Homo sapiens: one gene and its partners. The protein of the gene in region 2 purifies or fractionates together with the protein of the main gene of each other region. This does not show direct contact. Each region holds a gene or a part of one and is shown on either strand. Other genes may lie near its edges. The genes, in order: THY1, SUGP1, RIDA, ZC3H11A, MYH8 and CUEDC2.

Region 1 (4,678 bases), on a different chromosome or scaffold from region 2:
GCAGACTCAGCTGGCTCTAGTACTAGATTAAGGAGGTCCTAGGTGGGCAAGGCCAGCTGCATTTTTCATAAAATGCCCTAGAAACCTCTGCAGTTTACCAAAGTGAATAGCTCCTTTGGACTTAACCATCTGCAAGGCTCATTCCAGTTAGAGTGTTCCATCACCCTAAATGCTGGGAAACCAAGCGAATCTCCTCCCACTTGCAAGCTTCCAACAGTGGCTTCCAACAGTGCCACTGCAGTATCAGAAACTGCAGGGAAGGTGCCAGGGCTGACTTCCATGAAGAAATAGGAGAACAGGCAGGCAGACATTGGGGAGGCCCACAGAATGTCGTGATCAGAATTCATAAAGAGGCTGGCAGGATACAAATCAATCAAATAAACGTTAGTTCAAAAAAATTCACTACACCTGTGAGTGAGAGAAAGTCATCAGCACTGTCTCTAAAAATGAGCCTAGGGCTTCTGGTGACATCCAATCGGTGGGTTATCAGGAGTGCCCCAGGTGATCAGGAGTTGGCCTCGACTCAGTCCTTTTTGTGCTGTCTCCTCCTCTTTCCCAGAGTTCCTCTCTCTCTTCTCCCACTAGGCAGGGATGAGCAAGAGGAATGGCTCACCCTTGAGAGCTGGGGTCCATAGCCCAGGTCAGTTCTCCAGCTCTCCCACTTACCAGCCAAGACAGGAGGTGAGGATTGAGATGGGATGAACCCAGCAGGCGGCCATGGGTTAAAGGTCGCCATGAATGTAATGTGCCCAGCACAGTGCCTGCTAAAAGGCAACACTCCCTTCCTGGTCTGAAGACCAAACAAGCAGACTGTACTCAGGAAAGCCAGAAGAACCTTCCAGCTGTCTGGACCAGAAGGTGCCAGCCCAGGGGCTGAAGAAGACGTAATGCCCAGAGCAAAAAGCGCCTGCAGCCCCCTGAAGGGCTGGGTGCTCTGGAATAGATGAGGGGGCGAAATGGGGCTGGGGACCAGGGACGGACAGGGTGGGTCCAGCACCTGCCTCGCTTCCGAAGGGCTGCTCCAACACTGAAAAACACCCAACCAGCTTCCTTTCAGAAAGACTGGAATATTCCAAAACTTCTCACTGGAGGCTCCGGAGGAGGTGGGCTCCAGCTGAAAAGGAAATGTGGAGGCGTGGGCGCTCCCGGCCTGCATCCTGCACCTCTTACACTTTGGTTTTCCCACAGACTCCTGAAGAATAGGTCAGAAGAAAGGGTTAAAGCCTTAAAAGGGGAACAACCATTGCGGGGCTCAGGGAGGAGGATAATGTTCTTTGGGCTGCCGCACCCTGATCCCCGGGGTCCCGAACCCTCCCGTCCCTGGCCAGGCCTGCCAGCCACAGGGTGAGGGCCCCCTTCCGCCGCAACCTGCCACTCTCACACCAATGCGGGACCGCCTTCTCTTCCTTCCCCACCCCCCACCCCACCCTGCCGTCCTTTCTCCCCCAATCTCCGCCTCTGATTGGCTGAGCCCCCGGCTCCCCGCTCCCCCTCTCCTCCATCCCCGGTGAAAACTGCGGGCTCCGAGCTGGGTGCAGCAACCGGAGGCGGCGGCGCGTCTGGAGGAGGCTGCAGCAGCGGAAGACCCCAGTCCAGGTGGGAACTGGAGCCGGTGGGACCTGGGGCTCGGGGACCGCCGTCAGGCGCCCATGCAAGACTTCCCAACACTAGGCTTCGGGCCACGGTCCGAGGGCGCCCAGGGAAGAAGGGCGCAGAGCTTAGGGAGGGGCCTGCTTTCCAGGCAGGGGCGGGAGGGGGATGCTTCTGCAGGGCAGGGGCCGCGTGGCACCCTGATGTCTTTCGGGGAAGGCGCTCCCGGGCTTTCGCCCGCTGGGGGACTGGTGTCTGGGGCTGGGGCGCTGGAGAACAGGGAGGAAGGGCACCAAGGACAGCCTGTGGGTCTACATTCCACCCAGACGTCCCCAAACCCAGCTCGCAGAGGCGGGGAGGAGGACGGATGAAACTGCGGGGAGAGGATGGAGGATGGCGAGCTAGAGGGAATCTGCCGGGTGACCTCGCGGCGGGCTGGGTGCGGGGCACCGGAGGAGAAGGAAGCCGCAGTGCCGCAGGCGGGGACTGGGTGGAAGGCGGGCGGACGGGGGAGGGGAGAGCTGGAAAAGGATGAGAGAGGGGGAAGGGGGACTCATTTGGGAAAGGAGAGGATTGGAATACGGAAATGGATTAAGGATGAGGCCCGCCGGGGGCTTGAGAGGGAGGAAGAGCAGACCTTCTCTGGGTCTGGAGCCGCCTGAGGACACAGACCAGAGGAAATGAATACAGACTGCACCTCCCCAGCCGCTCTCCACCCCTCCCCTGGCTCTTCTACCCTCTCCAGCCCCAGACCCATTTCTTCCCTTTCTTGCTCTGGCCATTGCTCCCCCTTCCCCTCCTAGATCCCAAGCCCGCACAACATCTCAAACAAGAGTCCTCGATTCAAAAGCCAGATGCCGACCCCCCTTCCTCCTGGATCTGGCTCAGGGCAGCAGCTCCACCCCGGGACAGAGAGAGCATTGATTGTAGCTGCAGCCGCCGCGGGATCCTAGCCTCACCCGTCAAGGGGCTGAGCGCCAGGGACCCTGAACTCGTCTAGTGGTGCGCCCTGCGCACCCGGGCGCACTCAACCGAGGCAATGCCCTGCGCGCTCTCGCGGGTGCACGCCCCTTCTGTGGCCTCTCCTGGGCGAGCACTGCTCTGCAGATAGGCTAGACTACCGGCTCCGCGTCGCCTCGCCAAGGGTTGGTTCAGCCAAGGCTGCAAAAAACAAAAAAAGACCAGGCAGACAGCCTATCCAGGGTGGCTATTGAAACTGGGCTGGAAAACTGCAGTCCCAGGAACTCCAGAGAGCTGGACATTGGGAAGCATCCTTGGCTCACATACAATCGGAGATCACTATGTCTTTCTCTCCTCCAGGAACACGATTAGCTTGTGTCCTATCCAGATAGGAATAGATGCTCCCTATCTGGGAGCATCCTTAGCTATGGTGAATGGTATCTAGCCATCCACTGGGGATGGCGAGTGACTTAGGGATTTGTGTCTCACGTATATGAAGCAGTCATCGCCAGATGTTGGTTGTTTTTCTTAACCCCCATCATAACCCGGTGGGTATGTAAGATTCAGAGAGATTCATTCATTCATTCACAATAAATATCTTTGGAGTGTATGCTATATGCCAGTAATCTGCAAACGGAAACGGTTTTGAGCATTGGGGATTTTCTTCTGAACAGGAAATGGGAAGTCCCTAAATGGGGAGTCTTTGTTTAACAGATACAGAGTTTTACTTTGAAAGACAAAAAGAGTTCCGGAGATGGGCTGCATAGCAACGTGAATGTATCCAGCACTGCTGAATATACTGAATTTAAGTACTGAATTTAAATGGTTAAAATAGTAATTATTATGCTTTTTGTATTTTACCACGATTAAATTTTTTTTTTAAATACGAAGCCTCAGCCCTCATAGGTCTTATATTACCATACACTATGTTAATGTAAGAAGAGGAGAAAGAGTGGTAAAGTTACTTAAAGTCACCCAGCTAGTAAGTGCTCCATGGCCAAGCGCAGAAACACACCGTGACTGGGCTTGTTCTCCCTCCTTCCTTGCTTTCCCTGAGCAGGAAAGAGCCAGTGGCAGTATCATGTTCAGTGAGATGCAGGGACGAGAGGGGGAATGGAGAGAGGGACTTAGATGACTGCCATAGCCACTATGCCATGTTCCCAGGGACCCCCAGCCCTGGTGGTAAGTGTGGCACAGCTTGGCTGATTCCCATCCTGTTCCCACCCCAGATCCAGGACTGAGATCCCAGAACCATGAACCTGGCCATCAGCATCGCTCTCCTGCTAACAGGTACCCGGCATGGGGCAGGACTGGGGCTCCAGGCGCCCTGGCTTCCTTCCCTCCAGAGAAGCAGCTTCTCCCTCACAGTCTCAGAAAAGCGCAGGTGACAAAGAGAGGGCTCTTTTTCATCCTGAAGTCAGCCAATCCACCGCGCTGATATTCTGACGGCCTGAGGTGGTTTTTGAAAACACAGTTTGCTGAGCCCTCCTTCACACTATTGAACTAGAATCCCCAACTGAGAACCCGGAACCAGCATCAACTCCCTAAGATCTCCTGTCCTTGAAACACATTGATAGGATCCAAGGCTCAAGCAGAGTGGGGAGGGAGGCTGGGGTCTGCAAAGGAGAAGTGGGATCCCTGGGGTGGGGAAAGGCACTCAGAGAGCAGACCCCGGTCCCCTCCCTAGCCAGGCCCATCTCTCCACTTCAGGTGGGTGGGAGGCCCCTGTGCCGCAGGCCCCTCCAGTTTGAAGGAGGCACTGCTGGTGCCAGTCTTGCAGGTCTCCCGAGGGCAGAAGGTGACCAGCCTAACGGCCTGCCTAGTGGACCAGAGCCTTCGTCTGGACTGCCGCCATGAGAATACCAGCAGTTCACCCATCCAGTACGAGTTCAGCCTGACCCGTGAGACAAAGAAGCACGTGCTCTTTGGCACTGTGGGGGTGCCTGAGCACACATACCGCTCCCGAACCAACTTCACCAGCAAATACAACATGAAGGTCCTCTACTTATCCGCCTTCACTAGCAAGGACGAGGGCACCTACACGTGTGCACTCCACCACTCTGGCCATTCCCCACCCATCTCCTCCCAGAACGTCACAGTGCTCAGAGGTGAGACAAGCCCCTAACAA
Region 2 (3,949 bases):
AGGCTAAGGCAGGAAAATCACTTGAACCCAGGAGGCAAAGGTTGCAGTGAGCCGAGATGATGCCATTGCACTTCAGCCTGGGTGACAGAGCAAGACTCCATCTCAAAAAATAAAAAATGAGGCTGGGCTTGGTGGCTCACACCTGTAATCCCAGCACTTTGGGAGGCCGAGGCAGGTGGATCACCTGAGGTCGAGAGTTCAAGAACAGCCTGACCAACGTGGAGAAACCCCGTCTCTACTAAAAATACAAAATTAGCGCATGCCTGCAATCTCAGCTACTTGGGAGGCTGAGGCAGGAGAATGGCTTGAACCCGGCAGGCGGAGGTTGCGGTGAGCCAAGATTGCACCACTGCACTCCAGCCTGGGCAACAAGAGTGAAACTCCATCTTGAAAAACAAAACAAAAAAAAAATGAAAAGCTGGAAACGCCCATCCCTTGGACTAGTCATTCTCCCATTTCTGAGATACATCCTGGAAATCATGTCAATAGAGCATCAGCTGTAATGAAAAGTCAGTAGGCCGGGTGCGGTGGCTCATGCCTGTAATCCCAGCACTTTGGGAGGCTGAGCGGGGTGGATCACGAGGTCAGGAGATCGAGACCATCCTGGCTAACACAGTGAAACCCCGTCTCTACTAAAAAATACAAAAAAAAAAAAAAATTAGCCGGGTGTGGTGGCGGGCGTCTGTAGTCCCAGCTAGTCAGGAGGCTGAAGCAGGAGAATTGCCTGAACCCGGGAGGCGGAGCTTGCAGTGAGCTGAGATTGTGCCACTGCACTCCAGCCTGGGCGACAGAGCAAGACTCCGTCTCAGAAAAAAAAAGGAAGAAAAAAAAGAAAAGTCAGTGACACAGTCAGCGTCCAACCTCTGTGGGTTAAATCATCAGCACATCTCCCCAGTGGAGTATGCCGCCTTCAGAAGGCACCCATGTGAGCTGGCAGCCCAGTGTGAGGGAACTGAAGCAAGGCCAGTCAGTGAACATGCTTCCACTGTTCTAATAGGAAAGGCTTATGTCATCAGCTTGAGGCAGAAATTTTTTTTAAAACTGGGATATGTATAGGATCACAGCTCTATTAAGATAAATCTTTGCTGAAACTGGCAGGAAACACCTTAACAGTGGTTATCCCTGGGTTCAGGGTGGGATTAGTTCCACCAGAGGGGAACCTTGGTGGTGCACCCAGCCGTGTTCTAGATGGGGTGTTGGGGGGCTCCACTTTCTCCCCCTCATGGGGGTCTACCATTGAGTGCCATTGTAACCCCCTCCCCGAGATGGGCAGACCCTCCAGGGGACTGTGATGCATCCTTGGACCATCCTGGAGGACACTCAGGGTGAAGCACCAGCTGAGACCAGGAAGGGGCCCCCACACCCCGATGCCTGCTCGCCCTAGCAAGTGAGCCTCCCCAGCTTGGCCTCTCAAATCCATGTCTGAACTCACCCGGCTGTCAAGTGTCTTTTCCAAATCTGACCAACTGTTCCCTTCTCTCCTGAACAGTTGTTGCTTTTACCTCTTAATCTTTGCATATGTTCCTCACTGGGTCACACGTGTACCATGACCCAGGATTACAGAGAAGATGCTGTCATCTCCTGTCCTTCTGTCCCACCCTCTTGAGGTACCGGATGTTAGCAGGGCCGTAGACACACAGGCTCACCTAGAAACTGTCTAAGGGGTCTCTTGCTGCTCGCTCACTATTTATCTTATTTTTTTGAGATGGAGTCTCACTCTGGTCCAGGCTGGAGTGCAGTGGCCCAGTCTTGGCTCACTGCAACCTCCGCCTCCCAGGTTCGCGTGATTGTCCTGCCTCAGCCTCCCGAGCAGTTGGGACTACAGGCGTGTACCACCACGCCCAGCTAATTTTTTTATTTTTAGTACAGACGGGATTTCACCATGTCGGCCAGGCTGGTCTCGAACTCCTGACCTCAGGTGATCTGCCCGCCTCGGCCTCCCAAAGAGCTGGGATTACAGGCGTGAGCCACCGCGCCCGGCCTCTGTAACACAAAGGGACTTCACAGCATCCTTGACCCTTTAATTCACATTAGTTGCACGCCTTGGTGCTATGACCATCCCTCCAGATTCACAAGTGCAGGTCCAGCCCCATCTTGTTCAGCACTGTAACATGCTTTCAGGGCTGTACATGCATTCAGTTCTCTCCCGTGTTCTGCCATGTGGAGCTGGGCCAAGACTCTCCCTTTTGGCATAGACCCCAAAGACAGTCCTGTGGACTGGGGATGTGTACGGTCCGAGAGGCGCCAGTAGGTGCGGAACATGGCTCTGAACCCAGCGCCACCTGCTGTGCTCCTCAGGCTGGGTAGGGACAGAGAAGACCTGTGCTCCCAGCCTCACTGGAAGCCACACTTCCCTGAGGCTGCCTGCCCCCACGTGGGGTAGAAATCAGCTCCTTGGTCCGTTCTGATGTTCATTGTCTCAAAGATGCATTTGAGAAGCCCTTGGGATCAAGACAAGTCCCTCTGCCCTGTCTCGTGTCTGGTGTCTCCCCACAATCTGAGATTTTTTGGTGTGAATGTCTCACTTTTCCCAGGCCCTGGGGAAGGGTCTGAGGGTCCCTGCCCTTTCCCTTTGTAGCAGGGTGAACAATGACAGTGTGATGGGTGCCTGATAAAGACAGGGTGAGGATTGGAGTGACTCAGTTCAAAGGAAGGGCATCGGGCCACCAGAACCAGCAGTCACTGCCAGGAGGCCTGGCAGGGCAGGAGGTCATGGTGGAGACCGTGACTATGACATGACCATATAGTGACCCTGGCCAACGTGGGCACACAAGGCCAGAACTGCTCCTGCCCAGAATCAGGGACAGGGCCTCGGGCCCAGCTGACACTGCACCCCCCAACTCTCCTTTGCAGCTTTCTGTATGAGCCCAATAGCCAAGGGTACAAGTACTACCGACAGAAGCTGGAGGAGTTCCGGAAAGCCAAGGCCAGCTCCACAGGCAGCTTCACAGCACCTGATCCCGGCCTGAAGCGCAAGTCCCCTCCTGAGGCCCTGTCAGGGTCCTTACCCCCAGCCACCACCTGCCCCGCCTCGTCCACGCCTGCGCCCACTATCATCCCTGCTCCAGCTGCCCCCGGGAAGCCAGCCTCCGCAGCCACCGTGAAGAGGAAGCGGAAGAGCCGGTGGGGGCCTGAAGAGGATAAGGTAGAGCTCCCACCTGCTGAACTGGTGCAGAGGGACGTGGATGCCTCTCCCTCGCCTCTGTCAGGTGGGCAGACCCTCTCCCCCTCCCTGTGTTGGAAGGGTCTGACTTCTTTCACTGAGCATAATGTCTTCAAGGTTCATCCACAGTGTAGCTTGTATCAGAATTTCATTCCTTCTGTGGCCATATCTTCCACTGTGTGTACATACCACATTTGGCTTACCCACTCATCTGTGAATGAACTCTTATATTCACAGAGGTTGTTTACACTGCTTGGCTGTTGTGAATAATACTGCTGTGACTATCTGAATCGTTTTCAGTTCTCTTGTCGGTATACCTAGGTGTGGAATTGCTGGGCCTATTGCAATTCTGCCTTTTTTTTCTTTTTTCTTTTTTCTTTTTTTTTTTGAGACAGAGTCTCGCTCTGTTGCCCAGGCTGGAGTGCAGTGGTGCGATTTCAGCTCACCATAAGCTCTGCCTCCTGGGTTCACACCATTCTCCTGCCTCAGCCTCCTGAGTAGCTGGGACTACAGGTGCCCGCCACCATGCCCGCCTAATTTTTTGTATTTTTTAATAGAGATGGGGTTTTACTGTGTTAGCCAGGATGGTCTCTATCTCCTGACCTCGTGATCTCCCGCTTCGGCCTCCCAAAGTGCTGGGACGTAGAGATGGGGTTTCACCATGTTGGCCAGGCTGGTTTCGAACTCCTGACCTCAGATGATCCACCCGCCTCAGCCTCCCAAAGTGCTGTGATTACAGGTATGAGCCACCACGTCTGGCCTGTAATTCTCCTTTTAACTTTGAGG
Region 3 (3,113 bases), on a different chromosome or scaffold from region 2:
AGGAAAACAATGTAGAAACTGAAAACTGTGTACATTAGTCATTTAAAGTGTACTTACTTTGGGTAAAGCAGCAACTTGGTAAGCAGCTCTAGCAGGAAAATTACTCTTGAAATCTGAATTTAAAAGAATTTCATTTTTTTAATAGAGAAGAGTTGAAAAAATAAAGATCAAGTGAAAATTTTTATTTTAGTTTTCAGATATTCTATTGTTATTCAATATCTACAATTAATAATCTGGCAAATATTTCATATACTAGTCAGTTCTTAGATATAAGCAACATTTATTTTTATTTTTTTGAAACAGAGTCTTGCTCTATCGCCCAAGGCTGGAGTGAAGTGATGCGATCTCAGCTTACTGCAACCTCTGTCTCCCATGTTCAAGAGATTCTCCTGCCTCAGCCTCCCGAGTAGCTGGGATTACAGGTGTGCACCACCATGCCTGGCTCATTTTTGTATTTTTAGTAGAGTCGGGGCTTCACCATGTTGGCCAGACTGGTCTCAAACTCCTAATGTCAAGTGATCCACCCACCTCAGCCTCTCAAAGTGCTGGGATTATAGGTGTGAGCCACTGCTCCTGGCCTTAAGCAACATTTTAAAAAAGAGGCTCACTATCAGATTTGTTTGATAAAATATTTTGCCATATGATTCCTATGATAGTTAATACTTTTTAAAATCTCTTAGCTTTCTGGCAAAAAAAAAAAAAAAAAAAAAAAAGAAATACATACCCTAACATTTTGATCTTGTTTGATGTGAATGGAGTTTTGTTTTTAAAGTGATATTTATAAACTATTTATCTAAATAGGGAACAAGTGCCCATCTCCAGAAATTTTGGCAAGTACTTCCTCTGCCAACTTTGGTCTTTTCTAATAATTTCTTCAGGAGAGAATAAGTAACGATGCTTTTTCCAAGTTATACCTTTGCCTCATCCCATTAGGTGTTGGGGACACCAATTTTCCCTACTATAACATCAATGTTAATAATAGCTAACATTTACTCAGTGCTTATAACACACCAGCATCTAAGTGCTTTACATGTTGTACTGACTCATTTAATCATTCCAACAACCCTATAAGTTAGGAGTATATTATCTCCATTTTGCATATGAGAAAACCAAGGCATAGAAATATTAAGTAACTAACTAATGAGTCTGAGAGAGCCAGGATAAAGATGGTGGCTGCACCATACAGCCACAGTAAATAAAATCTATGCATAAAAAACTTGTTAGGAGAGTTTAAAAAGCCTGAGAAGGATTTAATGAAATTAAGCTTTTGAAAAATGGATATGTAGGATTTCAGTATATTGTTTTAGGGAATGCAATAGAAATGTCTTAGAACTTTTTCATGGGGGGTATACAACATATTTCCAATCAGATTATTAATTCTTTTAAGATCTATGACCATTTCTTTAGCATCTCCTACCACTCTTAATTCATAATGCACATTCATTAATGTGACCAGATTTCTTTCTTTTTAAAAATGGAAAATAGGAATAAAGCCAAATTACTTACACTGTTTGTAGATTTCATTGACAGTATTGAAGTCATTTATGTCAGCCAGAAGAACAGTTGTTTTCACCACTAGAAGATATAAACATTGTCATTAGGTTTAGTTATTTGGTCTGACCCAAAACATTACTTAGAAAAAGAGTGTATGAATCTGAGACTGTCTTGATTAAAATGGGACTGAAATGGGACCAAAGAAGTGAAGTAGAACAGTTGCTATTTAAAACAACTTTTAAATAGCAACAAAGATATGGCACGGCATCTTACTGGATGCCATATATTTTTCAAAAAGACCAAAGAAATATCAAAAAGAAATGTGAAATAATATCAAATTGCTCACCGTTAGTGAAGTCACAGCCTGCAGCTTTCAGAATTTCACCCATGTTTTTAAGAGCCTGTGAACCAAGCCAAGAAAGGCCTAAGTCACTGATGTTAGATTTAAAGCTTTAATTAAATTCAATTAATCATCTTTTACTAATACCTCCTTAAATAGCCTATGTTGCAGAAAAATCCTCCCTACTCGCTTACAAGTGTGTTTCTTGGCTTTCCTTTAATAGAATGAGTCTTTCTGATATATGGTGAAAATGTTGTCTCCTTTTGTGCGTAAAAAGACTAGGTTGAAGTTCCTTCTTCAGTGCTAAAATGTGTTAATTGTTCAGCCAATGTCCACAGAAATAATTTCTGGTGTTCTTCATTCGATATCACGTCAAGGATAAGGATGAGCTAGTAAGCATTAAAACATATTTTCTTTTAAAGCAATATTTGACTTCAAAGGGTTCTTTTTCCTTTTTCTCAAAAAAACAATATTAGTAAATTATATAACAGTTGGAGACACTGGCTTCTGGAAAAACATTTATCTTTTTTTGGATTCACTCTTCCCACTTTGCTGGTCACAATGCAATATTTCATTATATTCTTGTGTCTTTTAAAATAATCTTCTAAATAGGTAATACATGGATATGGCAACAACAACAACAAAAAAACTCAAAAGCTATTAAAAAAGCATATACCGTGTAAAGATATCTCTCACCCCTCTCTCCCTCTCCCAAGTTTCCCTCCTCAGAGGTAACCACTGTTCCTAATTTATTGTATATCCTTCTAGGTACAGTCAATGCTTATGTTACATATTTTTAAACACACAAGCACACATGGTAGCATACTGTGCATGTTGTTCTGCATCTTGGTTTTATTACCATGGAACAATTTACCTCGGAGATCTTTCCACATTACTTTAGTTGTATTGATCTAGCATAATTTATTCAACCAGTTCTTTATGAGTGGATATTTAGGTTTTTAAAAATCTTTCAGCTAGGCCGGGTGTGGAGGCTCATGCCTGTAATCTCAGCACTTTGGGAGGCTGAGGTGGGTGGATCATGAGGTCAGGAGATCGAGACCATCCTGGCTAGCACGGTAAAACCCCGTCTCTACTAAAAATACAAAAAATAAGCCAGGTGTGGTGGCGTGTGCCTGTAGTCCCAGTTACTTGGGAGGCTGAGGCAAGAGAATTGCTTGAACCTGGAAGACAGAGGTTGCAGTGAGCTGAGATCACGACACTGCACTCCAGCCTGGGCGACAGAGCAAGGCTGTCTCAAGAAACAAAACAAAACAAAACA
Region 4 (3,949 bases), on a different chromosome or scaffold from region 2:
TATTCTTCCCTAGCAACATACAACTATCCATGCCAAAACGTGATGACTTACCACCTTGCTTCTTAGATTTTTCCTTCATTTTCTTTGACTTAATTTCCTCAAGAGTTTTTATTCCAAAATTCAAACATTCACCTGAAAATTCAAATAGAAATTTTATGAGGAACGGGAGCCTTTTCATCTTTGTATTTTATCTGTACATAGCAGGCATTTATTTTTGAATAAATGATCAACAGAAACTAAGTATAGGTAAGTATGCGTGTAGCATGGGAAAAAGAAGAGGGAGGTCAATGATTGTGAACTAAATTTCAAAGGTAGTTTCAACAGTGCTATAAGAGGCACCAATCTAGCCTCTTCTTACCTTGCTTTATATTGACTGCAGGTTTCCGGACAGAAGTCACTCGTAATCCATTGTGAACTTCAGGAGTTGGTTGCAGGGTAGGTGTTTTGGTTTCATCACCTTCCTCAGAAAACTGATCTATATATCAACATTTAAGGCAAATTCACAATTAAAAATACGCCTATAGCTTTAATCCTGATTCTGCCCAATTCACTATGAGACCCTATTTATTTGCCTTAAAGAAGGAGCCAGACAGAACTTACCATCATCATCTTCATCATCATCTGCAGCATTAATTACAACTGGTGGATGCGTGGGGCTAGGAACATTTTCGGAACTTTCTACTTTCATAACGCTCCGCAGCTGAGGGGAAGGATTGGACTGGACAGACAATTTGTTCTGCTGAACTGAAAGTTGGCTAGCCTTCACTTCCTCTTCTGGTGACTCAGGCACAGTGGGCAACACAGCTAAACGCACAAAATCAGTCATAAATTAAAAACAGAAGATACAACCCCAACTTACCAAAAATTCCTGACCACCTATGAAAACTATAGTGTATTTGTCTTATGAGCATTTATACTAAATTTCCTCATTTAAGTTCTAAAGTCCCAGGGAGGGAAAAGATGTGCTTTTACCTAATTAACTCTCCACTAACTCTCCACTGTACATAAACACAAAGTGGGCACTCAAAACAGAATCAACAGAAGACTAGAAGAAGCATAGTACCTGTTCACAAATTCTAGACCTTTAATTTTAATACTGCAATTCTAGGCTTTTTGCTCAGCAAAGAAGTAGCTTCTAAGACCCAAGCATATGACACTTACTTGAACCAAACCAGAAAGGAATAAGTCTACTTTTTTCCCTTAAATTGAGGTAAAAAGATGTAGCCATCAAATTTTAATCACGTAGCAACTGTGGCTTTTAAATGGCCAATTCCACTTTTAAATTACTTTAAAATGAACTTTGGGAATAACCACTAGCTTTTTAGTTTTATTTTAGATTATAGTCTAGAGTAGGGTTGGCAAATATTTTCTGTAAAGAGCCAGTTAATAATTTAGGCTTTGTGGGCCATATGGTTTCTGTCTCAACTACTCAATTCTATAGCACTAGCACAAAACTGATAATAGAAAATATGTAAATGAATGGGCAAGGCTATATTCCAATAAAACTTATTTTACAAAACAGGCAGAGGACCAGTTTTGCCAACCTTTGACCTAGAAAATCAAATTTATTTTGAAAACGTTTATGGGTCTGATAAGAATATGAGAAATGAAGTAAGTATAATAACTTAAATGGCATGCCAAGATATATAATGGTTCTAAGGCCAAGGATAAATCATTTAACCTTAATAAGATTCAGTTCACTTATCTGTAAAGTGGAAATAATTCTGCTGTTTCACAAGACTGAAAGGAGTCAATGTCTGAAAAGTACTGTTGTACAGTGTGCATAATAGGTGTTCATTTGATATTCTTTTAAAATTAAAAACTGATCTCACTTTTGCTCGGAGGTAGGAAAAGGCCATCAACATATCGTCCTCTATTGTGATGGAAAGCGCAGTTTAATTTTTGACATCCTGTTGGCTGATTTTCCCAATAACAAGGAATTTCACTGCGTTTTTTCTGTAAGAGGGAAAAACACATTGCTTTCAAATAAAACAGTGATACGTATATTCATGTGGCAGTTTGTTTTCTAGACAAAGTTCATACAGGGTTCAAAAATCCGAGGCATGTGAGATGAGATGATTTTTAGAAGGAAGAGAGATTGCTGAAAATAACATAACTTAGGCATGATGGAGAGCTGAATGGAGCAGGAGAGTAGTTTATGTTATTCTTTCCCTTTTTACCCTCATCCTGGAACCCCTAAAATGTCTACACTTAATTTAGAGAAGCAGGATGATACAGTAGTTTAAGTTTATGAAATCAAAGATAACGGTCTGAATCTCTATTATGTTACTTATTGGCCAGGTGGCCTTGGATAATTCATGCCTCTAAGCCTCACTTTCCTTAGCTATAAAACGGGAATAAATGGTTTCTTATGAAGAGTACATAAAATAATGTATATAAAGCACTAAGCACATAGGTCAAACTCAATAAACTGCAGTTATTACTTGAAGCTGAGAGTTCAAGGGTTTGAGAAAATTCTTCCCATTCATGAATTCTCAAAGTAAGGCACCTATAACAACACACTAAGGATGTTAGGTATCCTTCCCAAGTCACCTTACTTTTTTTTTTTTTTTGAGACAGAGTCTTGCTCTGTCACCCAGGCTGGAGTGCAGTGGCGCGATCTCCGCTCACTGCAAGCTCCGCCTCCCGGGTTCACGCCATTCTCCTGCCTCAGCCTCCAGAGTAGCTGGGACTACAGGTGCCTGCCACCACACTCGGCTAATTTTTTTTGTATTTTTAGTAGATAAGAGGTTTTACCATGTTAGCCAGGATGGTCTTGATCTCCTGACCTCGTGATCCGCCCGCCTCAGCCTCCCAAAGTGCTGGGATTACAGGTGTGAGCCACCGCACCCGGCCAGTCACCTTACTTTTATAAAGGAAAATTGGGAGAAAAAAAAAAAAAAAGAATACCTGTGCATCTAGAATAGAATAAACTGCTGAATCATAGGATGTATGTCCTAGAAAAATATATACATTAGTTCTCCAACAGCTGTGTATAAGCAATGTTCACAGCAATATTATTTTCAATAGCTCTATAATTTTGCAAACCCATGTGTACATCAATACTAGAATGGATAAAGAAACTGTAAAGTATTCGTACAACAGAATATCATCTAGTAATGAGAAGGAATAAACCATTGCTATACTCAATGCCACAGATGTGAAATGAAAGAAGCCAGACACAAGAGTGCATACTATACCATTCCATTTATGAAAAGATGAAAACAGTCAAAACTTCTCCATGGTAGAGTAGTTGGGATGCTGATCAGCTTTGGGGATGTGGTTAGTAACAAGGGGATGAAGGGGAAGATAGATTACTGCTAATACTCTATTTCTTGAACTAGGTGCTGATCAAGTAAGTATAATCACTCTATGAAAATTCTTCAAGTTGTAAGATTACGATTTTGCACTTTTCTAGATACATTTTAATAGTTCAAAAAAGGGGGAAAAAAGATATGAGAAGTACTCCCAAAAACTAACTAACCTCCGATGAACTGCATTATGTCGAATCTCTAATCATCATAAACAGCCTATGGTTTAAAATTCCAGGAAAAAACACCAGCATTGAAATTTAAGAATATGGAGAAGAGAGACAGAGAAACAATAACCATTACAAAAAGATGCTTAAATGTATCAAAAAGGGCAAAGGTCAAAATCTACTATATTGAGAGAGTGATAAAATTCAATTATACACTGTTTTCAGGGACGTGGAAGAATCAGGCAGTCTCAAACACATAATGGAAATGTAAATTTGCTCCACATCTCTGAAAGGTGATTTGGCAAAATCAGTTTTTTAAAACTATGTTCTAAGTTTATGTCATATGCATAATTACCTATTAATATTTTTAAAGTATAATTTTTAAAAAGAATTAATTATTATTAATCAATATTTATTTATTAATTTTAATATTATTGATATTTTCTAAAAGTATAATATTTTTTAAAAGTA
Region 5 (3,949 bases), on a different chromosome or scaffold from region 2:
ATATCAGCAGATGCCAGCTTCCCTGTAGTACCAAAGTGGATTCTAATGAATTTACCCTTGAAAAGAATATTTAGTATTAGAAAACTGAAACACAAAGAGAGATGCAAATGAAATAATAATTCAGACGTGGCTACTCTGGAAGTTAGGGGTTGAGACCAAGAGACTCACAAAGCGAGAGGAGTTGTCATTCCTCACAGTTTTGGCATTGCCAAAGGCCTCCAGTAGGGGATTGGCGCTGATGATTTGATCTTCCAGAGTCCCCTGCAAAGGAAGGAGCAGTTCTCACATCTGGGACTCCAGATGTCTGAGAGCCTTGACAGAGGTTTTGACTCTGGCTATCAGACCTACCTGCATTTTGCCAGATTCATCCTTCTTCTTCTCTCCAGTAACTGCAATTGTTGCAAAGTATTGGATGACACGCTTGGTGTTCACAGTCTTTCCGGCACCAGATTCTCCGCTGTCAAACAGAAATCAGAGAAGAGATCAGAGAACTATGGCCTGCATTGTCAACATCTAAGACAATCCTTGCAAATCAGAGAAGAAAAAAAATCACATACGTGATCAGGATGGACTGATTCTCTCGATCTGTGAAAGAATTCAAAATCATCCGTTAAAAAATGCATATTTAATATGAAGAGTATTGAATCAGTTCAGATCAAACACAGCTTGTTCTTTTTAACTTTTTGAAGATGTCACCTTTGGTTTTGATTTTGTGTTTATCCTCCAAAATAGCCAATTGCTTCTCAGTGTAAAATTTGTGAAAATGAAAGCAAAGAATCATCTCTTCCTTTTTGTATTTATTAATTTTTAATTGCGATGAGATACACATAACATAAAATTTACCATCTTAACCATTTTTAAGTGTAGAGATCACTGGCAGTAAGTACATTCATAAAGTTGTAAAATCATCATCACCCTTCATCTCCGTAATTCTTTTCACCTTGTCAAACTGAAACTCTGTGTCCCTTAAACTCTTAACTCCCCATCTCCTACTCCTCCCATTCCCTGGCGCCCACCATTCTACTTTCTGCCTCTGTGAATTTGACTACTCTAGGTACCTCATGTAAGAGGAATCATAGAGTATTTGTCTTTTTTGTGACTGGCTTATTTCACTCAGCATGGTGTCCTCAAGGTTCATTCATATTTTAGCATATGTCAGAGTTTCCTTCCTTTTAAAGGCAGGATATCTTATTGCATGTATATACCACATTTTGCTTATCCATTCATCTGTTGATGGACACTTGGGTTGCTTCCATGTTTTTGCTATTGTAAATAATGCTGCTATTAACATAGTTGTACAAATGTCTCTTCCAGACCCTGCTTCCAGTTCTTTTGGGGATATACTCAGAAGTAGAATTGTGGGATCATACTGTAATTCTATTTCTAATTTGTTGAGGAACTACCATACTGTTTCCACAGTGGCTGATCATTTTACATGATCACTAACAGTGTACAAGAGTTCTAATTTCTCCAGTTCTTGTCAAAACTTGTTATTTTCTGATTTTTTGATAGTAAACATCCTAACGAGTGTAAGGTACATATTTGATTAATTTTTAAAACATTTATTATGGAAAATTCAAACATATACAGAAGTAGAGACAATAATATAATGAATCCCCATGTGCCCATCATACAGATGCAATGGTTATTAATATTTGGCCAATTTTATATCATCTATACCTCATCCCAATCTCACTGAATTATTTTAAAGAAAATCCCAGAATCTTATAATTGTATTTATAAATACTTCAATTAGAATTACAGAATTTTGAAGGCATAAAAGATCTTAGAAATTGCTTAGGCCAACTCTTACATTTAAGGGATAAAGAAACTGAGACCTGTAAAGGAGGAAGTGACTTTTCTAATATTAAGTACATAGCTAGTTAAGGTCAAATATATCCTCCTGGCCTCTTCCCAGCTTTTGATGTCACTAGTTTGACTTCTGGCAATACTAAATAAGGAAGGGGTCTGGAATTGTGAATATTTGTGTTCATCTGTTTTATTTTCCTTTTAATCTTATATGCATTTCTAAATAATAAAAACAAATGTCACTAATTATGTGACTGATATGTTGTATTTACATCAATTTGCTGATTTGTTAAATCTCTAATTCTATAGTGTTAGATTATAGATTTTAGAGAATTCTAAAACCTAAAAATCTATTCAGGGAAAATAGATATAAATCTGGATGTTATTTAGATGTAGATATAGACATAGACTTTAGAAAACTTTAGCCTTCTCTTCAGGGAAGTCGATGCAGATTTTGCATCCTATTCAGATAGATTTGTTTTCTAGTATAAGTAAAACCGTGGAAGATTATATCACATCTAGTGGAAGCACAGATGAGAAAACAATGTTCTGGTCTCTTGGCAATGCTAAAATAACACTCACCAGCTCAAAGGCTAGAGCTCTGTACCATTTTGTACAAAAATCATGTTTGGGAGCCATAAGTAACCTTGAATTTGGAGCAGCCCCAAACCCTGGGGAGCGGGGGGCTTGCTGAGTGGGAGGACAGGGGTGGTGTACATAGCTGTGTAAATGCAGCTGTTGAGTATTAAAACCTCTGAAATGAGCCAGCGTTTGGATAATTTCTGGGAGGTAGTTAGCTTCTGTTGACAATCAAAGAACAGTTTACTGGCATAGAATCCTTGTAGAATTGATGGCCAATTTGTAATGGGAGATTCCTATTTTATTCCTTCCTCTTTATTCTCCCCCTCGAAAAGACAATTTAAAAACAAGTGCAAAAAAACAAACCAAAAAGAAAGAAAAAACACCTTAGTTTCCAAAATTCCATGGAACAACAGGAAACTCAGGAATAGAAAGTATTTCCAAAGGCAGTGCATTTGGTGTGTGAAGATAAAAGGTTTTAATGCTGTATTTGGGCCTATAATGCGTATCAAAGCTGGTTGTTTATGCCTTGATAAGGCAGGAGTAACAGACTTTGATACAATTTAAACATTTTTCTCAGAAAAGATTTTTTCCTTTCATTGTAATAGGAAAGTGCTTCAAATCTTTGGGAGGAAAATCATAGCTTTCTTTACTCATGTTTTACCCTTAAAGGCTGGCAATATTAGCTGTGTCATTCAAAAATAAACATAAGAATTCACAAAGTTTTCCAGCTGTGGCTGATAACTCTTTTCGTTGACTGCTGTGAGCCTGGGTATTTTTAAAAAGTCTGTTTGAACACTTTTTTCTATCCAAATTGGAAAGTAACAAAATATGGAAAACAATAAATATGTTTACAGTGGTCTAGTAATTGTTTCAGCTAGGCTTCCACTTAACTATCTGTGTTAGCTTGGGAAGGACAGTGAATTCAGTGAGCTTCACTTTACTCATCTGTAAAATGGAGGTAGCTGCTGGGAAGAGCATAAGATGTCACAGCTGTGAAAGTTTTTTGAAAACAGTGAAGCCCCATGTGGCTAGAATGTATTATCATAACATAAAGAGGCTCGGAAGAGGTCTGTCTGTTCTGCAAAGATTCTATTTACACATTTCTGTAAATAGATGCCTCACTCACTCACCAGTCAACATGAACTGATAGGCATTGTCAGAGATGGAGAAGATGTGGGGCGGGGCCTCCTGGCGCTTTTTGCCTCTGTAGGCAGCCACCACCTCGGGCTTGTACACCGGCAGCCACTTGTAGGGGTTGACGGTGACACAGAAGAGGCCTGAGTAGGTCTGGGAAGATCAGAACATTTATCATTTGGATCTCGTTTTTACTCAGAGAGAGACATGAAATAAAAAGGTGTTTACAGACACTCACGTAGATCATCCAGGCTGCATAGCGCTCTTTGAGGTTGTACAGCACTCCAGGCTCGTGTAGATGAGTCATCATGGCCATGTCCTCAATTTTGTCATATTTCGGAGGGTTCATAGGGAAGACTTGGTCTTCCCTGACAGTTAGAGTCTGGTGAGTAAGCAAGAAACCAGTTCGTTTTTGTTTGTTTGT
Region 6 (3,862 bases), on a different chromosome or scaffold from region 2:
TGTTACCTCCTCAGAGAGCCCTTCCCTGACTAACCTATGGCAAGTAAGTCTTCTCCATGCCCCTTAACCCTACATAGCACTTACTACCATTAACATTATTTTGTGCTTATTTGCCTATTGTCTGTCTGCCCCCATAAAATGGAAGCTCCAAAGCAAGGTGGGGATGAGGGGGACACTCTGTCTTATTCATGAGTGTAACCCTAGCACCTAGAAAAATGCCCATACTGGCTAGGTGCTGAATACATACCTGTTGACATGCTCCATTCCCATCTACATGCTTTTGACTCCCAAAAGTCTGTTTGGGAGTCAGGAGCATATGGGTGGTAATGAATGGCTCCAGACCCATAGGTCCAAATGCCAGCTCATCATCCCACTCAGAAGGCTCCGAGGCACCACCAGTTCCACGCACCTCACACTCATCATAGACTACTGATCTGCGCACATCCCCCTCCAAACACACATCTGCTTCATCAGCTGACACCACTCACTCAGCTGCCAAAGCTGAAACCTGGGGATTACCCTTGATTTTGCCCTCTTTCACCCCTACCAGTCAATCACCAAGTCTGTCAATTCTATTTCCTTCTTTCCTTCTTATCTGCATTGTATCCACTTCTCCCTATCCTGAGTCTGGCTTCTGCTCCAAAATCTCCACCAAAATTTCTTCTTTTTCTTTTTTTTAGGCAGGGTCTGGCTCTGTCACCCAGGCTGGAGTGCAGTGGTATGATCTCGGCTCACTGCAACCTCCATCTCCCCAGCTCAAGCCATCCTCCTGCCTTAGCCTCCGGAGTAGCTGGACTACAGGCACACACCACCTACTAGTTTTTTGTTGTTGTTGTTTGTTTGTTTGTTTTAGTAGAGATGCAGTTTTGCCATGTTTTGAGTCCAGGGTTCGAGACCCAGGCTGGTCTCGAACTCCTGGGCTCAAAGCAGTTCGCCCACCTCAGCCTCCCAAAGTGCTGGGATTACAGCCATGAGTCACCGTGCCCGGCCTCAAAATTTCTTAGACTGAGGTCATCAGTTACTTTTTCCAGGTTTTAGTCTAATTAGGTTGAACCATATGAGCTTGCCAATTTTGTCTGGTTTTGATCTACAAAAAAAAAGGGGGGAATTTCTCATGATTTCACCTTCTATTTGCCCTTTCAGCAGCTCCAACTTTGGTTTCTGAGATGCCATTCTTTCCTGGTTTCCTTCTACCTCTCTGGCCATTTCTTCGAAGGCCCTTTCTCTGTCCCCTTCTCTGCTCCCCTCTAAATGTGGGAGTTCCTCACATGCAAGGCTGCCTCTCCTTCTCACTGCAGCGCTCTCTCTCTCTCTGGAAGATCTCATCTGGGCCCACATCTTTATGTACCAATGCCATGTCATCAATTCCCAAATGTCCAGTCCTCTAGTCCAGTCTCCTCTGAGCTACAGGCTTGGACATCTACCTCTCTAACACTGCCACGTGTATGTTTTACAGGCATCTCACAGTTAGCGTGTCCCAAACTAATGTTCTCTCAAGTGCTTTACTCCTCCAAGGCCATTCTCAGTAAATGCATGTCCAGGCACCCGGCTGTTCCTGCCACAAATCTGGGAAATATCCTTGACACCATCCTACCCCTTGCTCTCCCTCATCCAATCAGTCGCCAAGCCCTAATCATTATCTCTTGCCACATCTATTTCTCTCCATCTCTACTCCCACTTTTCTCCATCTCTTGCCTGCAAGAACTTCCTAACCCTTCTCCCCACTCCATCTTCCCCCCAACAACCTATTCTCCACACCACAGCTGTGTGATCTTTACAAAAAAATCACATCTTTTCCTGCTTAAAATCTATCAATGCCTTCCTGCTACCCTTCAGGGAAGTCCAGAATCTTTTCATGGCTTTCCATTGCCGTCCTTACCCTGTCTATATCTCTCTCCAGCTTCACCATGCACCATACCTTCCTGGATCATTTCCCTCCCTCCACCCTGGCTTTGTTTTTTGTTTGTTTGTTTGTTTTGTTTTGTTTTTGAGACAGCCTCACTCTGTTGCCCAGGCTAGAGTGCAGTGGTGCCATCTTGGCTCACTGCAACCTCTGCCTCCTGGGTTCAAGCGATTCTCCTGCCTCAGCCTCCCGAGTAACTGGGATTACAGACATGTGCACCACACCTGGCTAATTTTTGTATTTCTAGTAGAGACAGGGTTTCACCATGTTGGCCAGGCAGGTCTTGAACTCCTGACCTCAGGTGATCCACCTGCCTTGGCCTCCCAAAGTGCTGGGATTACAGGCATGACAAAGCACCCGGCCCCACCCTGGCTTTCTTTCAGTTTGCTAACACTCAAACTCTTTCATGGCAAGGTAGTATACCCTCTGAGCCTTCTGCCTCATCATCTGAGTGGGACAATGAGCTGCCATTTGGACCTATGGGTCTGGAGCCATTCATTACCACCCACATGCTCCTGACTCCCAAACAGACTTTTGGGAGTTAAAAGCATGTAGATGGGAATGGAACATGTCAACAAGTATGTATTGAGCACCTAGCCAGCACGGGCATTTTTCTAGGTGCTAGGGTACACAAACTATTTCCTCTGCCTGGGCACCCTTCTGCCTCCACCCCTTCACTTACTGTCACTCTGATCTTTTGGGTCTCATTTTAAAATTCCCTTCCTTGGCTGGGCACGGTGCCTCATGCCTGTAATTCCAGCACTTTGGGAGGCTGAGGCAAGAGGATCGTTTGAGCTCAGGAGTTTAAGACCAGCCTCGGCAACATATCAAGACCCCATCTCTCTTTTTGTAGAAAAATATTTTTAGGCCAGGCACGGAGGCTCATGCCTGTAATCCCAGCACTTTGGGAGACCCAGGGGGTTGGATCACGAGGTCAGGAGATCAAGACCATCTTGGCTAACACAGTGAAACCCCGTCTCTACTAAAAATACAAAAATTAGCTGGGTGTGGTGGCACGCGCCTGTAGTCCCAGCTACTCAGGAGGCTGAGGCAGGAGAATGACATGAACCTGGGAGGCGGAGGTTGCAGTGAGCCGAGATTGCACCACTGCACTCCAGCCTGGACGACAGAGTGAGACTTTGTCTCAAAAAAAAAAAAAAAAGAAAAGAAAAATATTTTCAAATAAAAATAAAATAATTCCCTTCTTCCTCAAGGGACATCACCCCTGACCTAGAACTCATTTGGGCCCTGCCATATTACACTCTCTATGCAGGCTGCAAGTTTTCTGACTAGCAGCACCTTTCACAGCCATAATTATTATTTGGACAATGTTTAATGTTTCTTCCAGTTGTCTCATGAAGCAGGGACTAAACACCGGGCTGACATTCACCAGTGTATACTCAGCATCTCTCATGAAGTGGGCACTCAATAAACAGTTGAACCCCAATTTACCTATGAAGAAATGAAGTTCAGTGTGTTTAATGACTTGCCCAGAGTCACCTGGCTTGACTGCGGTAGTCAGATTTAAATCCAGGTCACCTAGTTCAGCATCTATTCTAGGGGCTACTCTGGGGAAGGGAGGATATCAAGACTTTCAAGTGGGTTGGGACAGGGCTACCTTCTATGCTTACAGTTGCCTGGTCCCGAGTGGTAACAGAGTTGCTCATAGCACAGGGGTCACTTTGGAAAGCAGGACTGAGAAGCCCCAGCCTACCAGGGGAATTCATACCACCTGCGCCAGAGCCCTCATGGGCCCTGAGGAAGAGCAGAATGGCTCAGCCCAGGCATACTAGATCCCATCATGCAGCTCCCTCAGGGTAGAACCGCCTCCAGGGACCTACCTCGACCCTGGGTTACATCACCCTCGAATCCTGGGCTGTCAGTTGCATGGTAGCCTCTGCCGGGACAAAGGCCCATGGCTGCTGCATGAAAGCCCAGTTTCTTTCTTTTTTTTTTTTT

Evidence for each region.
Region 1: the proteins of SUGP1 (region 2) and THY1 fractionate together in Homo sapiens (co-fractionation; one large-scale study listed by BioGRID). This does not show direct contact.
Region 3: the proteins of SUGP1 (region 2) and RIDA fractionate together in Homo sapiens (co-fractionation; one large-scale study listed by BioGRID). This does not show direct contact.
Region 4: the proteins of SUGP1 (region 2) and ZC3H11A fractionate together in Homo sapiens (co-fractionation; one large-scale study listed by BioGRID). This does not show direct contact.
Region 5: the proteins of SUGP1 (region 2) and MYH8 purify together in Homo sapiens (affinity purification with mass spectrometry; one large-scale study listed by BioGRID and IntAct). This does not show direct contact.
Region 6: the proteins of SUGP1 (region 2) and CUEDC2 fractionate together in Homo sapiens (co-fractionation; one large-scale study listed by BioGRID). This does not show direct contact.

Annotation. Positions count from the first base shown.
Region 1 is NC_000011.10:119,420,031-119,424,708, reverse strand, and holds the start of THY1 (thy-1 membrane glycoprotein isoform 1 preproprotein), read left to right. Parts: upstream 1-1,536; 5' UTR 1,537-1,596; intron 1,597-1,920; exon of another isoform or gene 1,921-2,020; intron 2,021-2,146; exon of another isoform or gene 2,147-3,098; intron 3,099-3,779; 5' UTR 3,780-3,803; coding exon 3,804-3,840; intron 3,841-4,322; coding exon 4,323-4,658; intron 4,659-4,678. UniProt on the Homo sapiens protein: May play a role in cell-cell or cell-ligand interactions during synaptogenesis and other events in the brain.
Region 2 is NC_000019.10:19,296,249-19,300,197, reverse strand, and holds part of SUGP1 (SURP and G-patch domain-containing protein 1), read left to right. Parts: intron 1-2,853; coding exon 2,854-3,209; intron 3,210-3,949.
Region 3 is NC_000008.11:98,104,432-98,107,544, forward strand, and holds part of RIDA (2-iminobutanoate/2-iminopropanoate deaminase), read right to left. Parts: intron 1,896-3,113; coding exon 1,841-1,895; intron 1,576-1,840; coding exon 1,507-1,575; intron 114-1,506; coding exon 58-113; intron 1-57. UniProt on the Homo sapiens protein: Catalyzes the hydrolytic deamination of enamine/imine intermediates that form during the course of normal metabolism. May facilitate the release of ammonia from these potentially toxic reactive metabolites, reducing their impact on cellular components.
Region 4 is NC_000001.11:203,826,306-203,830,254, reverse strand, and holds part of ZC3H11A (zinc finger CCCH domain-containing protein 11A), read right to left. Parts: intron 1,957-3,949; coding exon 1,833-1,956; intron 805-1,832; coding exon 601-804; intron 476-600; coding exon 359-475; intron 133-358; coding exon 52-132; intron 1-51. UniProt on the Homo sapiens protein: Through its association with TREX complex components, may participate in the export and post-transcriptional coordination of selected mRNA transcripts, including those required to maintain the metabolic processes in embryonic cells.
Region 5 is NC_000017.11:10,415,124-10,419,072, forward strand, and holds part of MYH8 (myosin-8), read right to left. Parts: intron 3,908-3,949; coding exon 3,764-3,907; intron 3,679-3,763; coding exon 3,522-3,678; intron 586-3,521; coding exon 558-585; intron 458-557; coding exon 349-457; intron 262-348; coding exon 169-261; intron 57-168; coding exon 1-56. UniProt on the Homo sapiens protein: Muscle contraction.
Region 6 is NC_000010.11:102,425,973-102,429,834, forward strand, and holds part of CUEDC2 (CUE domain-containing protein 2), read right to left. Parts: intron 1-3,862.